Regions from separate parts of the Homo sapiens genome. Here region 1 is linked to region 2. The links come from fine-mapping of genetic effects on gene expression. Tissue or cell type: whole blood. Region 2 holds a variant in brackets; the other region holds the start of a gene. All regions are shown on one strand. Distances are from middle to middle.

Region 1 (8,105 bases), 52 kb after region 2:
AGAATCAAGATATGCTTCCCCTTAGAGTGAAAACTGAAATGAAAATCTTGTCCTCCAAGTTGTAAATTACATTATTTCTGAAAAGCCTTCAGGTATCTGAGGTATCTTATCAGGATCTGCTAAATCTAAATAGATATATGACTATTCTAACTATTTCTACTGTTCTAGCCTCATAACTATCGTCTCCTTTTCCTTAACTATCACATATAAACCCCCAGTTACTGTTTCTCCCTCAGTGGAAACAAAAGCTAGTAGCTATTTAGTAAACCAGCTTTATTAGTTATTTATTTGCCTCCTCCTAAGAAGCAAGACTAACACTTTGTTCTTTCTACTTTGCTTATTATTTAACATAAGAACACAACTTTTGCCCCAATTCCTTGAGATAGAATTTTTTATTCTGTAAGCCAGAGAGCTCTCATCCTTCTAATATCTCATTAAAACTACACCCAAAGGGAAAAAAGTTAGGGTCAAAACTGTCTCAAAGGTAGATAACTTTTTTTCTTTCACACTTATTAACTAACTCAGGAAAGTAAAAGGAAAACCTAAATCTCAAAACTTCTATAAAGAAATGGAAGCTCTTTTAAAAAGAGCTGTTAACGTGAAGTTTTAAAAACAAACACACAAACAAACTACTATATTTCAGGTGCAACCAAAACATGGCATTTATTTCATCAAATGTTAAATCCACAGGAAGAAATTTGGTAATTAAGATCATGGAATAATAATCCAATTTGCTATAGAGAAAAACTTGCTGCAAATCCCCTGGAGATCTTTAAAAACAGTACAGAATTTTCTATCAAGACTGATTTTAATAAACTCCTACAAAGAGATAAAGGACTGAATTAAATAAACTCCCAAAGGTTCTTTCCAATGCTAATGTAAAAGTTTCCCTCGGGCAAATTGCCACACCTTACCTCAAATAAAGGTTTGTGCTCCTCCCACTCATCTGAATAGCAGAGAGGAAAAATTACTGCTCTATTGTTCAACTGTTACTATTGTGAAAACTGTGTGTCTACTGTCATCACTAAACAGCAATGTGTGATTGTTTCATAACTCCTTAACACAGCATCTAGCTCATCAAATTCTAAACCCAAATCCAAGAGTTGTTCTTTTACTATACACATTCATTCATCTCTTCAAGCACAGAAACATACTCTTGAGAGTGTAAAGTGATCCTAGACGTTTCTGACTTCTCTCCTGTTCATTAAAAGACATGGTGGGAGATGTGAGGAAAAGAATTTACATCTCAACAATGTTATACTCTAAATTCATATTTTAGTAAAAGCATGACACACAGCTGTATGCGTATTTTTGATGGCACAGTTGGCAACATTTCCCCCCCAGAAAGAGGGGAAAGATAGGTAGAGGTTGGAGCACAAGCACATCGCTTTAATTAAAAATGAAAACAACTTTTAAAAAATGTTAAGATATTGTATTGCTCTCATGTAGTTACCAAGATCTCTCTTTTGTATAAGAAAGAAAAATATTCACAGACAATATTCCTCCATCTGAGAGTGTAGAAAGCTCCAGATCTGAAGTCTGTATTAAAAATACTGGTGAGAAGTAGTTTTCTAGAAGGGATACTGCAGCCCTCACAGCATTCCAACAGACCGTTCTTCCAAATGCCACCAATGTGCCTTGAGTGAAACTTTTACAAAACATGTCCCCAAAAGTCAACCAAATGTTATTCATACAGATTTTAAAATGTCATGTTAGTACCTTGATATTTCTTCACCTTATTAGTTGGCAAGCTCTGAAGAAATATCATTCTATAAATGCTAAATTGTTAGAGATTATGGGAGAAAGGTCCTTGATTTCCTACTAAATCTGAACATAACTCATAGGGATTGAAAGAAGCATTTGAACACAAAGCAACGCTGAAGTGTGAACACCTTTCTCTTGACTTCCTTTTTCATTTTAAAAAATCATACCGGCCAGGTGCAGTGGCTCACACCCGTAATCCCAGCACTCTGGGAGGCCGAGGCAGGCGGATCACGAGGTCAGGAAATCAAGACCATCCTGGCTAACACAGTGAAACCCCGTATCTACTAAAAATACAAAAAATTAGCCGGGCGTGGTGGCGGGTGCCTGTAGGCCCAGCTACTTGGGAGGCTGAGGCAGGAGAATGGCGTGAACCTGGGAGGTAGAGCTTGCAGTGAGCCGAGATCGCGCCACTGCACTCCAGCCTGGGCGACAGAGCGAGACTCCATCTCAAAAAAAACCAAAAAAACAAAAAAAATCATACCTCGGCCTGGTGCGCCTGTAATCCCAGCACTTTTGGAGGCCAAGGCAGGCCAATCACCTGAGGTCAGGAGTTCGAGACCAACCTGGCCAACATGGTGAAACCCCATCTCTAATAAAAATACAAAATTTAGCCGGGCGTGATGACGGGCGCCTGTAATCCCAGCTACTCGGGAGGCTGGGGCAGGAGAATCGCTTGAACCCAGGGGGTGGAGGCTGCAGTGAGCCGAGATCGCGCCATTGCACTCCAGCCTGGGTGACAAGAGCAAAACTGTCTGAAAAAAAAAAACAAAAACAAAAACAAAAAAAAAATCATACCTCAATGAAATTCACCTGCAAATGTATTTTCTAACTCCTACCCGTTAAATTTCCCTATTACATTCTATACCACAACAATTTTGTCTTATAAGTCGTTTACATTGCTAGGAAAACGACAAACTATTCCACTGCTTATAATGAGCTGACTGTTATCACTTCCTCCCTCACACAATTATTTCTTTAAAAGTGAAAACAAATCTTTTGATCTGTGTATTACTTCGCTTTGACACCTTACAACTTCAGGGGAGGTCAAGTCTGCTTTACTTATTTTTCCCCTCAACTCAGTCTCAATATCTCAACATGACCTGGAAAAATGCTTTATTTTCTGCTTCGCAGCAAACAGTAACAGACCTATCCATCATAACTACTCATCTGGGGAGTAGTTATGTTAAAGCCAAATTAAGATCACCATCCTATCAAACTGCAACAGTCACACTCCCGCTAAAGGGAAACAGAGTACTTTCTAAGCGTTCCTTAATATCTGTACAAGACTTAAACGTATTAAAGTCAACTGCAAAATTATCGCAACACTCTCTTCCAGGAACACCGATCTTGCATCTTTTTAACCAGCTCATCTTTAAAAACACATTTCAACAGAATATCTGTCAGTCCAGACCACTGTAAGGTTGATAATAAGCATTGTCTTGAATTTAGAACTTTTCAAAATATTTTAGAACTGCCTGAACTTGGTTGATGATTCAGCATGGTTAATTAGTATAGAGTCATCGCAAGTCACCACCAGGCTAAACAATCCCCTTGTGTGATAGCACTCGTGTTCAGGAAAGGGTCGAAGGGGCCACCTAATCCAACCTGGAGCCTGGGGTAGAGTCTCACCACCGGCAGAGTTAAGAGAATGATGCTTTCGAGGGACCAGCTTGGATTCCCTGCCAGATCTATGGACCAATGTCCTGGTTGGGGACTGAACGTGGTAGTCCAGAATGTGGTTGGGAGAGGCTGGGTGTGTTTCCATCTGACACCACCGCCTAATTTTCTTTGCTTCTTAAGGACCCCATGGGTGGTTTTCTTTGGACGACTGCAGGACTTTAAAAGGAAGCAATAACCTCAGGGGTTTGAGAAGGGACCCTCCGGAGCCCTTGGGCGGCTCCCACTGGAGTCCGAAGGGCCCCTCATCGCTTCCCCTGGGGACAGCACACACTTCTGGCAGAATGGGGCAGAGAAAAGTACCCGGAGCTCTGAGCAGAACCCAGAGCTCCGGGAGTAAGACCTCCAGGCGCGGAGAGGTGGGGAGCCCCCGAGCCGTCCTTGAGCCTCCAGGCTCGTGGAGGTCGGGCCAGCGGCCGGACACTGCCGCCCACACCTGCGAACGGCGCCCGCCCCGCGGATTGCCCAGCGGATGGCCCGGAGACCTCGCCCCGCCCGGCCGCCCCTCCGCCAGTCCACACCGCCACCCCGGCCCCGCCGCGCGGGCCCCTCGTACCTGGCCGGCGGCGGCTGCGGCTGCGGCTGCAGCGCTGCTCCTCACGTACCCGTTCCGTACTTCCCCGTTCGCCACGCAGCCATTCGCCCGCACCGTGCGGCGGCAGCAGCAGCCTCCGGGCTCCGGCCGCATCTTCCTGGCAGCACCAGGCGCAAGGCAGGCTCTGTAGGCGGTGGCAGCGGCGGCGGCTGCTCCAAGTCCCGCTCCGCACCCCACCCACCTCCCCGAAACCGGAAATGGCTGCAGCGCCGCCGCCAATTCCCGGGCGGGCCTTCACAGAGGGCGGGGCCCTCTCCGCAGAGGACCGGTCTCGGCCAAGGCCACGCAGCGAAGGGAAAAAGCGGCGGGGACCTGCCGAGAGGGATGTGGTCCTGAGGACCGCTGACCAATCTGGAAGAGAAGGAGGCGGACCCCATGCTGCTGCCTGGCCAATCACGGACGAGAGCAAAGCGCCTCGCCGGTGGAGAGGGGGCTTCTCTAGAGGGACTCCAGGGCCTGGCACCTGATTGGAGGCCGCATCCAGGTCCGGGGTAGGGCTTGCCTGTTTAATGGTCCAGACCGAGGAGGAGGCGGAGCCCAGGGAAAAGTAGCCAATTAGAGTGTGAGGAAATAAAAGGGGCTGAGCCGAAGTCTCTAGAGCGGGTTCCCAGGTTCTCCAGGACAGGTGGCGCCCTCTTTGCCCTTGCCTCGTGGGAAGTTTTGGAGTTTATGTCCTAGCCCAAGACAGGCAGCTCGCTTATTTAATTAGCTGATTCCTCTGTGAGTGTTTATAGAATAGATTTTTTGACAATCTCTCATCATTCTTCAATATGCGCCACACATTCACTATTTCTGAATTATTATAAGTAATAATTCAGATGCCTTTTCACGTGCCCTTCACATTTGCCCTTGGCAGGGTTTTCTATACAGTCTCCTTTAAATTAAGTCTTTCCTTCAAAGTTAGAAAACCTGGTCTAATTCCAACTCTGCCAATAACTGGAAGCTAAAACTTGAGCACTGTGTTTAACCACTTTAGAAGCCAAATTCTTTAAAATGGAGTTAATACTTCCTGCTTCATAGACTTACAGCAAGAATTATATCATTAACCCATTATGCACCTCTTATAATACTAGGCTTATAGTAGGAGTATAATAAATATTATTTTCTCACCCTTTTAGTTCCATCTTCCCATGGGGTTAGAAAGCAAGGAAATTGATCTACATTACAATTAGAGACTTTCTGTTATCCATAAAGAATTTAGTATCATAATTGAGAGTATGGACTCTGGAGTCGGTCTGGGTTTTAAATCCTAGCTGCGCCACTTACTAGCTGAGTGACCTCTATGTGTCTTCATCTGTTCAGTGGGGACAATAATAGTTGTCGTGAAGATTGAATAAGTTTATGTATGTAATGTATTTTGTACAGGACCTAGCAATTAGTAAGCATTCATTAAGTGTTGGTTACTAGTAATTGCTAAATGCACCTATGAGAATCCGTGCATTCTTTCCCCACCCTGCAGGAGCTTTAGAAAGGAGGTCCACAAGGTATTGGTTTTGCATGACTTAGGAGCTGAATAATCTAACAGAAGGTGGGATCATTCATCCCACACATCCTATTTGAGTTGACAAACACTATTGATCCCAAAGTGAATATACATCTGTATGTATAAGGCTAAAAAGGAAACATGTGGCTGTGCTTCATGGAGCTTACATTTCAGTGAGAGACAAGATATACACATAGAAAGAAAACAATAGTTAAAGACCAACCTAAGGCTGGAGAGATTAGGCAACAGGAGTTCTGATGAGGGAAGCTGAATGGCAGTGATGAGTCTAACCAGGTAGAAAGTTTTCAGGGCAGGAATCTGGATGGAAGCAGGGCTAAGGGATTTAACTGAAGCTTAGGGAGTGAGCTGAATGACTCTGGAGAAGGCTTGCGAGGAAGATGTGCAATGAGACAGATCTTGGAAGATGAGCGGGACTTGGAGAGCTGGAACTGAGAAGGATGGGGAGGGTGTTCTGAGGAAACCTTCAGAAACTCGGGTGTCGAGTCTAGAAAGATCAAAGCCTCACCTGCAGGCTAAGAGGAGTAAAGGAGTCTGGCTAGATTTGAGGAGTCCTGTTAGCCGATCCCTCCTCAGGGGGCTGGCCCCTTGTCTTGTTCCGCCACTTACTCACTATGTATAGTCTTGGACAAGTAATGCAAACTCAGCCCTGGTTTCCTCACTCATCTTACAAAGTGTGTACCTGTACTACTTACCTTACAGGCTTCTGTGAGCATCAGTGATATACAGATGATCTGATTACTTCACATGCCATTGCTAAATCACAAAAATGATGCTGCAGTAGGCAGTAGGAAACACCCCAGACTCCATGTAAACAGGAAAACAACTCCTTCCAGAAACATAAGCCGCTTAATCATCATTTTACAGTGTTCATATGCAAAGTTCTGTGCTAGGCACCAGGAAGACAACCCTTCTCTTCCTTCAAGATTGCTCAAACCACTTCAACTGTGAAGCCTGTTTTGAACCCCAACCTCCCCACAAAATTAGTTGCTTTCTCCTCTGTGAGCTTTATACACACCTGTGTAAGCATGTATCACACTGCTTTGAGATTCTTTGAGAGGGAGGTTACACAATGCTTAGAAGCAAGAGCTCTGCAGTCAGATATACCATAATTGAAGACCGGTTTCAGCACCTAGAATCCTTATGATTTAGGCAAAGCTGCCTAACCTCTCTATGACTCAGGTACTTCTTCTGTAAAATGGGATATACCTCATAGAGTTGGAGAATTAACAAAAGCATTTAGTGCCAAGACCTGTTACATAATATTAAATGAGTGTTGGTAATTATTCATTGGATAAATGAAGTACTTATTAAGTGAATGAATGATTGATTGAATACATTTATACTTACAATTAGGCAACAAGCTTGGTGAGTTGAGGGGATTGTCTAATTTATCTTTGGGTTCCCAGTACCTACCACGTGTCTGTCACATAGCAAATGCTCAATAAATGTTTGATGAATGCATAAATGGATAAATGAATTAAAATTTGGCCTTGGCTGGACATGGTGGCTCACACTTGTAATCTCAGCACTTTGGGAGGCCGAGGTAGATGGATCACGTGAGGCCAGGAGTTCGAGACCAGCCTGACCAACATGGTGAAACCCCGTCTCTCCAGAAAATACAAAAATTAGCCGGGCGTAGTGGCACATGCCTGTAATCTCAGCTACTTGGAGGCTGAGGCACAAGACTTGCTTGAACTTGGGAGGCAGAGGTTACAGTGAGCCGAGATTGTGCCACTGCACTTTAGCCTGGGTGACAGAGAGAGACTCTGTCTCAAAAAAAAAAAAAAAAAAAAATTTTGGCCTTGTCTCCAAGGAACCTTCTATCACATGGAGACTGTGTTAATTGAGGTTCTTTGGTTGCAGATAACATAAGCCAATTTTAAAAAACTTATTCAAGAAAGGTAAATTTATTGGAACTCTCCTGAAGACAGGGAAGTGTTGGCACTCAGGAAAATCCTAAACCTCAGCAGCAGAAAATTATAGACCTTCCTTCCTCCTAACCAAACCACTTCTGGTGCTTAGCTCTCAACAACCTACAACTTTCATATTCATGAGGTCAAACTTCTACACTCTCAGGAAAAAGAAATCTGATTGGCCTAGCTTATGGTGAGGATGGGTAAATCTGACCAATCGCAATGGCCAGAGCACAAGGTCAAACTGCTGGAGGGGAGGAATCAGTTATAGACAAGGAAGAATCATAGCAGAGAAGGGAGGAACAACCCTAACAGTGTTCACTACAAGGAGATAGAACCCGGGAGTGAAAAGGACAAATAGCAATAGCTTAGAATGGATGTTAAAGAAGGAGGCTGGCGGGTGCAGTGGCTCACACCTATAATCCCAGCACTTTGGGAGGCCGAGGGGGTCGGATCACCTGAGGTCAGGAGCTCGAGACCAGACTGGCGAACATGGTGAAACCCCCATCTCTACTAAAAATACAAAAATATTATCCAGCGTGGTGGCGGGCGGGAGGCTGAGGCAGGAGAATCGCTTGAACCCGCGAGGTGGAGGTTGCAGTGAGCCGAGATCGCGCCATTGCACTCCAGCCTGGGCAATAAGAGCAAAACT
Region 2 (8,105 bases):
AGCACTATTCACAACAGCAAAGACATAGGATCAATCTAAATGTCCATCAACAGTAGACTGGATTAAAAAAATGTGGGCCAGGCGTGGTGGCTTATGCCTATAATCCCAGTACTGGGAGGCCAAGGTGGGTGGATTGCTTGAGCCCAGGAGTTCAAGACCAGCCTGGGCAACATGGTGAAACCCCATCTTTACAAAAAATACAAAAAGAAAACACAAAAAACAAAAAACAAAAAACTTGGCCGGGCGTGGTGGAACACATCTGTAGTCCCAGCTACTAGGGTGGCTGAGATGGGAGGATCGGTTGAGCTGGGGAGGTAGAGGTTGCAGTGAGCTGAGTTCATGCCAATGCATGCCAGCCTGGGAGACAGAGCAAGACTCTGTCTCAAAAATAAAAATAAAAATATATATATATATATGTACATATACACCATGGAATACTATGTAGCCATAAGAAAGAATGAGATCATGTCCTTTGCAGCAACATGGATGCAGCTAGAAGCCATTACCCTAAGCAAACTAATACAGGAACAGAAAACCAAATACCACATATTCTCACTTGTAAGTGGGAGCTAAACACTGAGTACATACAGACACGACTAAGGGAACAACAGACACTGGGGTCTACTTGAGAGTGAGGCAGGGGAGGTTGAGGAGGGTAAGGTTCGAAAAACTACCTACCTATCAGGTACTATGCTGATTACCTGGGTGGCGAAATAATCTGTACACAAACCCCCGAGACATGCAATTTACCTATATAACAAACCTGTACATGTACCCCTGAACCTAAAATAAAAGTGAAAAAAAAAAAGTTCATATAATGCTTAGAGGCAATTTGGAAAAGTATTAAAAATGTATACTCTTTTAACCATGCATTCTGAGACTGCTAGAAATTTATCCTAAGGCACTAACCAGATGATGGTACAAAACTGTAACTGTAGTGCTGTTCCCAGTAGAAAAATTTAGAAACAGCCCCGATGTCCAATTGAGGGGGCAATTAAATGAGGGCACACCCAGGCACTAACTGCCACACTGGTATTTAAGAATGAGATAGAGTTACATGTAATGACAAACAACAATCACCGTGTATTGTAAAAAGAGGCCAGGCATGATGGCTCACACCTGTAATCCCAGCACTTTGGGAGGCCAAGGCGGGAGGATCAACTGAAGTCGGGAGTTCAAGACCAGTCTGGCCAACACAGTGAAACTCCGTCCCTACTAAAAATACTAAAAATTAGTCAGGTGTGGTGGCGCGCTCCTGTAATCCCAGCTACTCGGGAGGCTGAGGCAGGAGAATCGCTTGAACTCGGGAGGCAGAGGTTGCAGTGAGCCAAGATTGAGCCACTGCACTCCAGCCTGGGTGACAGAGCGAGACTCTAGCCTCAAAAAAAAAAAAAAGAAAATAACAGGTTACATAGTGATATTTAATAAGATCTCATTTCTCACTGTAAAACATTTTAGACAAGACAAAAACAAAAACAAAAACAAAAATGATGTTATCATCTATGATCCTTCCATCCACGGGTACACACCTAACATTTTGGTATACATTCTTCCAAACTTTTGTCTGTGCCTGTACACATTTTGGGAAAAGATGCTATTAACATACAGTTTGGTCACCTTTTCTGCCTATGTGTGTGTTTTAACTATGAAAGTTACGCATTTTTATTCTAAATAATCATTTTAATAATACACAAAGATATTTCCACTGAGGGAGGAAAGGTCTGGCTCAGGGCCACCCTCCTCTGTGCTCCCACAGCATCTATTCATAGCTGTACTTCAGCACCTGTCCACTATATTGTAAGGACTGGCTTATCTATTAAGTCTCTTCGTTAACCAGTCAGAGATCTTGATTTATTCACTTAAATACTGTTAGTCTTATGGCAAGATACACTATAGTCATCGAGTAAATGTATTTGAGTAACGGATCTGTAAACAAGGAAATGGGATGGAAAACTTCATGGTCAAATAAAAGGATAGTATTATATTTGTACAAGAGGCTTCCATCAACCTCTAATTTTAAAAGACTGGACCGGAAGAACATTTTAAATGTTGCTACTTTGTCTTCATTTATACTTTCAAGTGCTAATATAACTAATGTTAACTCCCACCATGGATCGAAAGAATAGCAAAACCAAGGCCAGCAGTGAATTCTTCAGCAAACTCACTGTTGTGTTTGAAGATTCTAATGGTTGCTCCTGACAGTCTGGCTCCCAGAACCAGTGATGCATGATTCAGTTCATCACTCAGAATCAGGCAACCCTGCAACATCACAGGAACAGAAAGGTAAGAAGCTGGAGGGGAAAGGGTTAGTTACACAAATCACAAAATGCCACAAACACTAATAGCTGTATCTTATTAAGGAAATTGTGCACAACAGCACAGTGATCAATTTTAAGAAGAGGAAAAAGGTGTACACGATCATTTGTTTTTTGTAAAGACACCTTAAAAGTAGATGCAAAATTCTAGCCTTTTAATTTAATATCTTCAGTCCCATGACTGATGTAAATACTCAGATATATGGCAACAGGTCTTTATTTGTATCTAAAACATGACACATCCGTCTCTAAAACGTTTTGGTTTCTTTACGTGAGAGAATTCCATGTAGTTTTAGTATCATGTTCTGTTTATCTGTGGGAAATGGCAGCTGATGGGGTCATGTCTGTGGAAATGGTGCATTCTCTCACTACTACTCATATCCAGAGTCCAGGGAAGATCCTACTTATTAACTTTTTCCCCACATAGCATGGACTGTAGGCTTCAGTTTTGTCTTAAAAATCCCCAAACAAGCTTTGCTTTAACACACAAACATCAGTTTCTGCTAAGGCAACTAAGAAAAGGTTGAAGATCTCGGTTTGGTTTTTTTTTTCACTGCAGTTCTTACTCTTCCATCTCTCAGGGGGCCCTTCAACCTGTCAGATCTCAACTCAGAAAAAGGTTTTTCTCTGTCAAAAATAGCCTCATAATATCCAATTAGATGAAAAGGGTGCAGAAAGTATATAGCATGCTCCCACGAGAATAAAAAGAAGAGAGAAGATACAAAGACACACAGTCATCCCTCAGTCTACAGGAGGACTTGGTTCCAGAACTGCCTCACCCTCACATTTATCCAAATCCATCCATGCTCATGTCCTGCAGTTGGCCCTGTGGGACCTGCAGGCCCTCCATATACTTGGGTTTTGTGTTCCATGAATACTATATTGTGTGTATGTGTGTGTGTGAGATGGAGTCTTGCTCTTGTTGCTGGAGTGCAGTGGTGCGATCTTGGTTCACTTGCAACCTCTGCCTCCCAGATTCAAGCGATTCTCCTGCCTCAGCGTCCCAGCTAGCTGGGATTACAGGAGCCCACCACCAGGCCCAGCTAATATTTGTATTTTTAGTAGAGATGGGGTTTCACCATGTTGGCCAGGCTGGTCTTGAACCCCTGACCTCAGGTGATCCACCCGCCTCAGCGTCCCGAAGTGCCAAGATTACAGGTGTGAGACACTGTGCCTGGCTGAAAACTGTATTTCTGCTCCATATTTGGTTGAAAAAAATCCACGTGTAAGTGGACCTGCATGGTTCAAACCATGTTGTTCAAGGGTCAACTATATATATACATGCTTATTTATTACAGAATATTCTTAAAGGAATACTTAAGAAACTTGTAACAGTAGTTGTGTTTGAAATTTTTATTATGCACATAGTATTTATTAAGATAAAAAAGCTACCTGGTTAAAAATGTACAGATTAAAAATGAAGTGGCCAGGCATGGTGGCTCATGCCTGTAATCCTGGCAATTTGGGAGGCCAAGGTGGGTGGATCACTTGAGGTCAGGAGTTCGAGACCAGCCTGGCCAACATGGCAAAACCCCATCTCTACTAAAAAGAAAACACAAAAAAATTAGCTGGGCGTGGTGGCAGGCGCCTCAAATCTCTGCTACACAAAAGGCTGAGGCAGTGAGGCAGTGAGCCGAAATTGTGCTGCTGCACTCCAGCCTGGGCAACAGAGGGAGACTCTGTCTGGGGGGAAAAAAAAAAAAAAAAGGAGGAGGAGGAGGAAGAGGAGGAAGAGGAGGAAAAGGAGGAAGAGGAGGAGAAGGAGGAGAAGGAGAAGAAGGAGAATAAGGAAAAGGAGAAGACTAGAGCCGGCAGTATCAATAGACTCCTGGCTTTCAAATCTTTATGCATGCATACACACACACACACACACACACACACACACACACACACACACACACACACAGATGTGTGTGTATGCATGAGTTCGCATATATACATACATTTTCTAGCTCTAGTCACTGAGAGGTGAGAAGCAGTGATACTCCTTCAGCAATAAACACACCTAGTTCCCAGACCTTGGTTTCTAAATATCATTCTCCAAAAAAAAGAACCAGCACTTCTTGGAGAACTGGTTAATTCCAAAACTGGGATAGGGAAAATATAAGATGATCCTGGAGCATTTTATCATGCCAGAAAGTATAAGAATGCTTTAAAAAAAAAAAGTTATTATATATTCAAAGGACACAGGTACCCACCTGAAGCAGCTCCCAATGGCCAAAACTAAAACTCGAGCAACAAAAAAGAAGCAATTGTGTTGAATTATAAGCCAAATAA[TAAAAATATTCACA/T]AACCCACAACGACAGAAATAAATAAGGGAGAAGCAAGAACTCTTCCTTACACAAAAATTCTAATTAGTAAGTATAGAAAGAATGAGAAAAATAGAAAAATCACCATTAGAACACCAAGGTAAGCCGGGTGCGGTGGCTCACGCCTGTAATCCCAGCACTTTGGGAGGCTGAGGTGGCTGGATCACCTGAGGTCAGGAGTTTGAGACCAGCCTGGCCAACGTGGTGAAACCCCATCTCTACTAAGAAATACAAAAAATTAGCCGGGCATGGTGGTGGGTGCCTGTAATCCCAGCTACTCAGGAGGCTGAGGCAGGAGAATTGCTTGAACCCAGGAAGCAGAGGTTGCAATGAGCTGAGATGGCGCCACTGCACTCCAGCCAGGGCAACAAGAGCAAAACTCCATCTCAAAAAAAAAAAAAAAAAAAAAAAAAAGAACACCAAGGTAATAACTGCCACAGGCAAGATCACAGATGCATACTAAAGTTAGTGGGTGAAAGTTTAATCCAAAATGCTATATACAGTCCCAAAGTATCTCTGCCACAATATATGGTGATTACAAAGAGAAAAGCAGTAAGTTGGTAGTAGAAAATCCCCGCTGACACCTGAGACAAGCGATTAAGATTTACATCATCAGTAATATGTATCAAAACCACATAGTCTCTCGCATGATTCACTGAGAATGGTATCACTTCTGTGGTAGCTTTCTCAATAACGCACGGACTCAATCAAACCATAACAACACAACAGACAGACCCAAATTGGAGACATTCTACAAAATAAGGGACCAGTACCCTTCAGAAGTATTAAGGTCATGAAAGACAAAGAAAAACAGGAACTATCCCAGATTGGAGGAGACTGAGGAGCTACAACAGCTAAAGACAATGTGGATCCTCACCTGGATCCTGAAGCGGAAAAACTGGTGAAAACCAAATACGTCCTGTACTTTAGTTATAGTATTGTGTCACAGTTAATTTCTTAGCTGTAAGAAACAGTTCCACTGTTATGCAAGATGTTAACATAAAGGGAAGCTGAATGAATGGTATACAGGAACTCTCTGTACTCTTTTGTAACTCTTTTTGTAAGTCTAAATTAAAGTTTCAAAAAAGTGTTAAAATTGAAAAAGCGAAACTGGGGGAGAAAATAAAGAGAAGTCAGATTTCTCTTCAGCAAGTCAAATTCTTTACTTACCACTCTTGGCATTCAACTCTATCTTAAAAAGAACCCTCCCTTCCCTTCCCCTCCGCACAAAATTTTATTTTCTTCTCTTTCCAGCTAAATATTTTTCTGGCAAACCTGCAAAAGCATTATGTTCTTTTTTTCTGGCAAAAAGGAACTCTTTTTAGACAGCCTTTTTTAGACAGCCTTATTCAGCATTTCAATGTATCAATCTGTCTTTTTCCCTTAGAACTTATTCTTAAGCTTTATTAAATCTTTGGTTCAAAAATAAAAGGTATTCATACTAGCAGTTAACATCTAAGCGCTTAATGTTTCAGGTATCATGTTAAAAGATTTAAAAGCATTATTACTATTAATCCTCACAATAATTCTATGTAGCAGACACTATTATCACTCCCACTTTACATATGAGGACACTCTTGTTCAGGAGTTTAGAATCTTGCTCAAGGTCACAAGCACAGTAACAAAATAATAATAGCAATACTAATTATTGCCCAGGCTGGAGTGCATCGGCGCAATCTCGGCTCACTGCAAGCTCCGCCTCCCGGGTTCACGCCATTCTCCTGCCTCAGCCTCCCGAGTAGCTGGGACCACAGGCGCCTGCCACTACGCCTAATTTTTATATTTTTAGTAGAGACGGGGTTTCACCGTGTTAGCCAGGATGGTCTCGATCTCCTGACCTCGTGTTCCACCCGCCTCGGCCTCCCAAAGTCCTGGGATTACAGGCGTGAGCCACCGCGCCCGGCCACAAAATAATTATTAAATAAGACAAGTGTCTGCTTCCAGAACCTATGCTCTTAATCAATATACTGCCCCACCCTGCCATCAAACTGAGCAATTAACCACCTCACATGGAAATTCAGTATCAGATTCAAAGGATCATTAAAACTGGATAAGTTACTGTCTTTAACAGATTAAACAATATTTAATAATATTTCAATTATAGTTTGATTTGGAATATAAATCTTTTTTTTTTGAGACGGAGTCTCGCTCTGTCCCCCAGGCTGGAGTGCAGTGGCCCGATCTCGGCTCACTGCCAGCTCCGCCTCCCGGGTTCACGCCATTCTCCTGCCTCAGCCTCCAGAGTAGCTGGGACTACAGGCACCCGCCACCACGCCCGGCTAATTTGTTGTATTTTTAGTAGAGACAAGGTTTCATCCTGTTAGCCAGGATGGTCTCGATCTCCACCCGTCTCAGCCTCCCAAAGTGCTGGGATTACAGGCGTGAGCCACTGCGCCCGGCCCTGGAATATAAATCCTTATGGTTGTATCTTCCAGGTCTGTGTAGAAAACGTCTAATTCTAGATAATCCTCTGATAGAGCTTGTAAGCATACAGAGAGAAGAGCAAGATGAGATTTTCTAATCCTCTAGTGTTAAAAATTCTAACAAATAAGAATCTCAGGCTTGTACTTCAAAATGCAGGACAGCAACGTATTATAACGTGAAGTCAAAGAACCATACATTTATGTCTTACAAGGAATTTTGTGTATTTTATCTAAGTTGTTGAATATTTTGGCATGAAGTTGTTCTTAATACTCCCTTATTATCCTTTAATGTCCATAGGACGTGTAGTGATGTCCCCCTCTCTCATTCCTGTTACTGGTAATATGCACCTTATCTCTTCTTATCCTGACCATTCTGGCCACAGATTTATCAACTATATTCATTTTCTCAAAGAATCAGCTTTGGTTTCACTAATTTTCCTATTGTCTATTTTCTAATTCATTAATTTTTGCATTTATCATCATTATATTCTTCCTTCTGCTTAGTTTGGGTTTAATTTGTTTTTCTTTTTCTAATTTTTTAAGCTACAAGCTTTACTTTTTTTTTTTAAGATGGAGTCTGGCTGCTTTACTTTTTTTCTAATACAGGTTGAATATTCCTTATTCAAAATGCTTGGGACCAGATGTGTTTCAGAGTTCAGATTTTTATGGATTTTGGATTATTTGCATTATATTTACTGGTTTAGCACCCCTAAGCATTTTCTTTGAGCTGTCATGATGACACTCAAAATATTTACGAGTTTGAAACATTTTAGATTTCAGATTTTGGGATTAGGAATGCTCAACCTGTATAAACGTTTAATGCTATACATTTCCATCTGAGCATTGCTTTAGCTTCATCCAACAAACTATAATAGGTTACATTTCCATTTAGTTCAAAATATGTTTATTTTCCCCTGTTTTTTCTTCTTTGGCCCATGGGTTATTTAGAAATATATTGTTTAATTTTCAAATATTCAAAGGTTTTCCAGATATCTTTGTGTTATCAATTTCTAATTTAAATTCCACTGTGATCACAGAACATACTTTGAATAATTTTA

The links. PIP is the estimated chance that this variant, and not a neighbour inherited with it, causes the effect.
Region 1: SPTLC2 starts here. The variant in region 2 is fine-mapped to the expression of SPTLC2 in whole blood (INTERVAL, PIP above 0.99).

Annotation. Positions count from the first base shown.
Region 1 is chr14:77,612,451-77,620,555 of GRCh38, forward strand. SPTLC2 (serine palmitoyltransferase long chain base subunit 2) reads right to left here and starts at 4,187. Exons shown (of 12, transcript NM_004863.4): 1 at 3,998-4,187. The coding sequence starts at 4,129. RefSeq lists enhancers at 3,444-3,653, 3,982-4,514 and silencers at 3,834-4,033, 4,174-4,223, 4,554-4,613.
Region 2 is chr14:77,560,231-77,568,335 of GRCh38, forward strand. It overlaps SPTLC2 (serine palmitoyltransferase long chain base subunit 2), which reads right to left. Exons shown (of 12, transcript NM_004863.4): 6 at 2,166-2,259. Among named protein-coding and RNA genes, the nearest start is that of SPTLC2, 52 kb to the right of the region's middle. The variant TAAAAATATTCACA/T (reference allele first, on the strand shown) is at 4,593.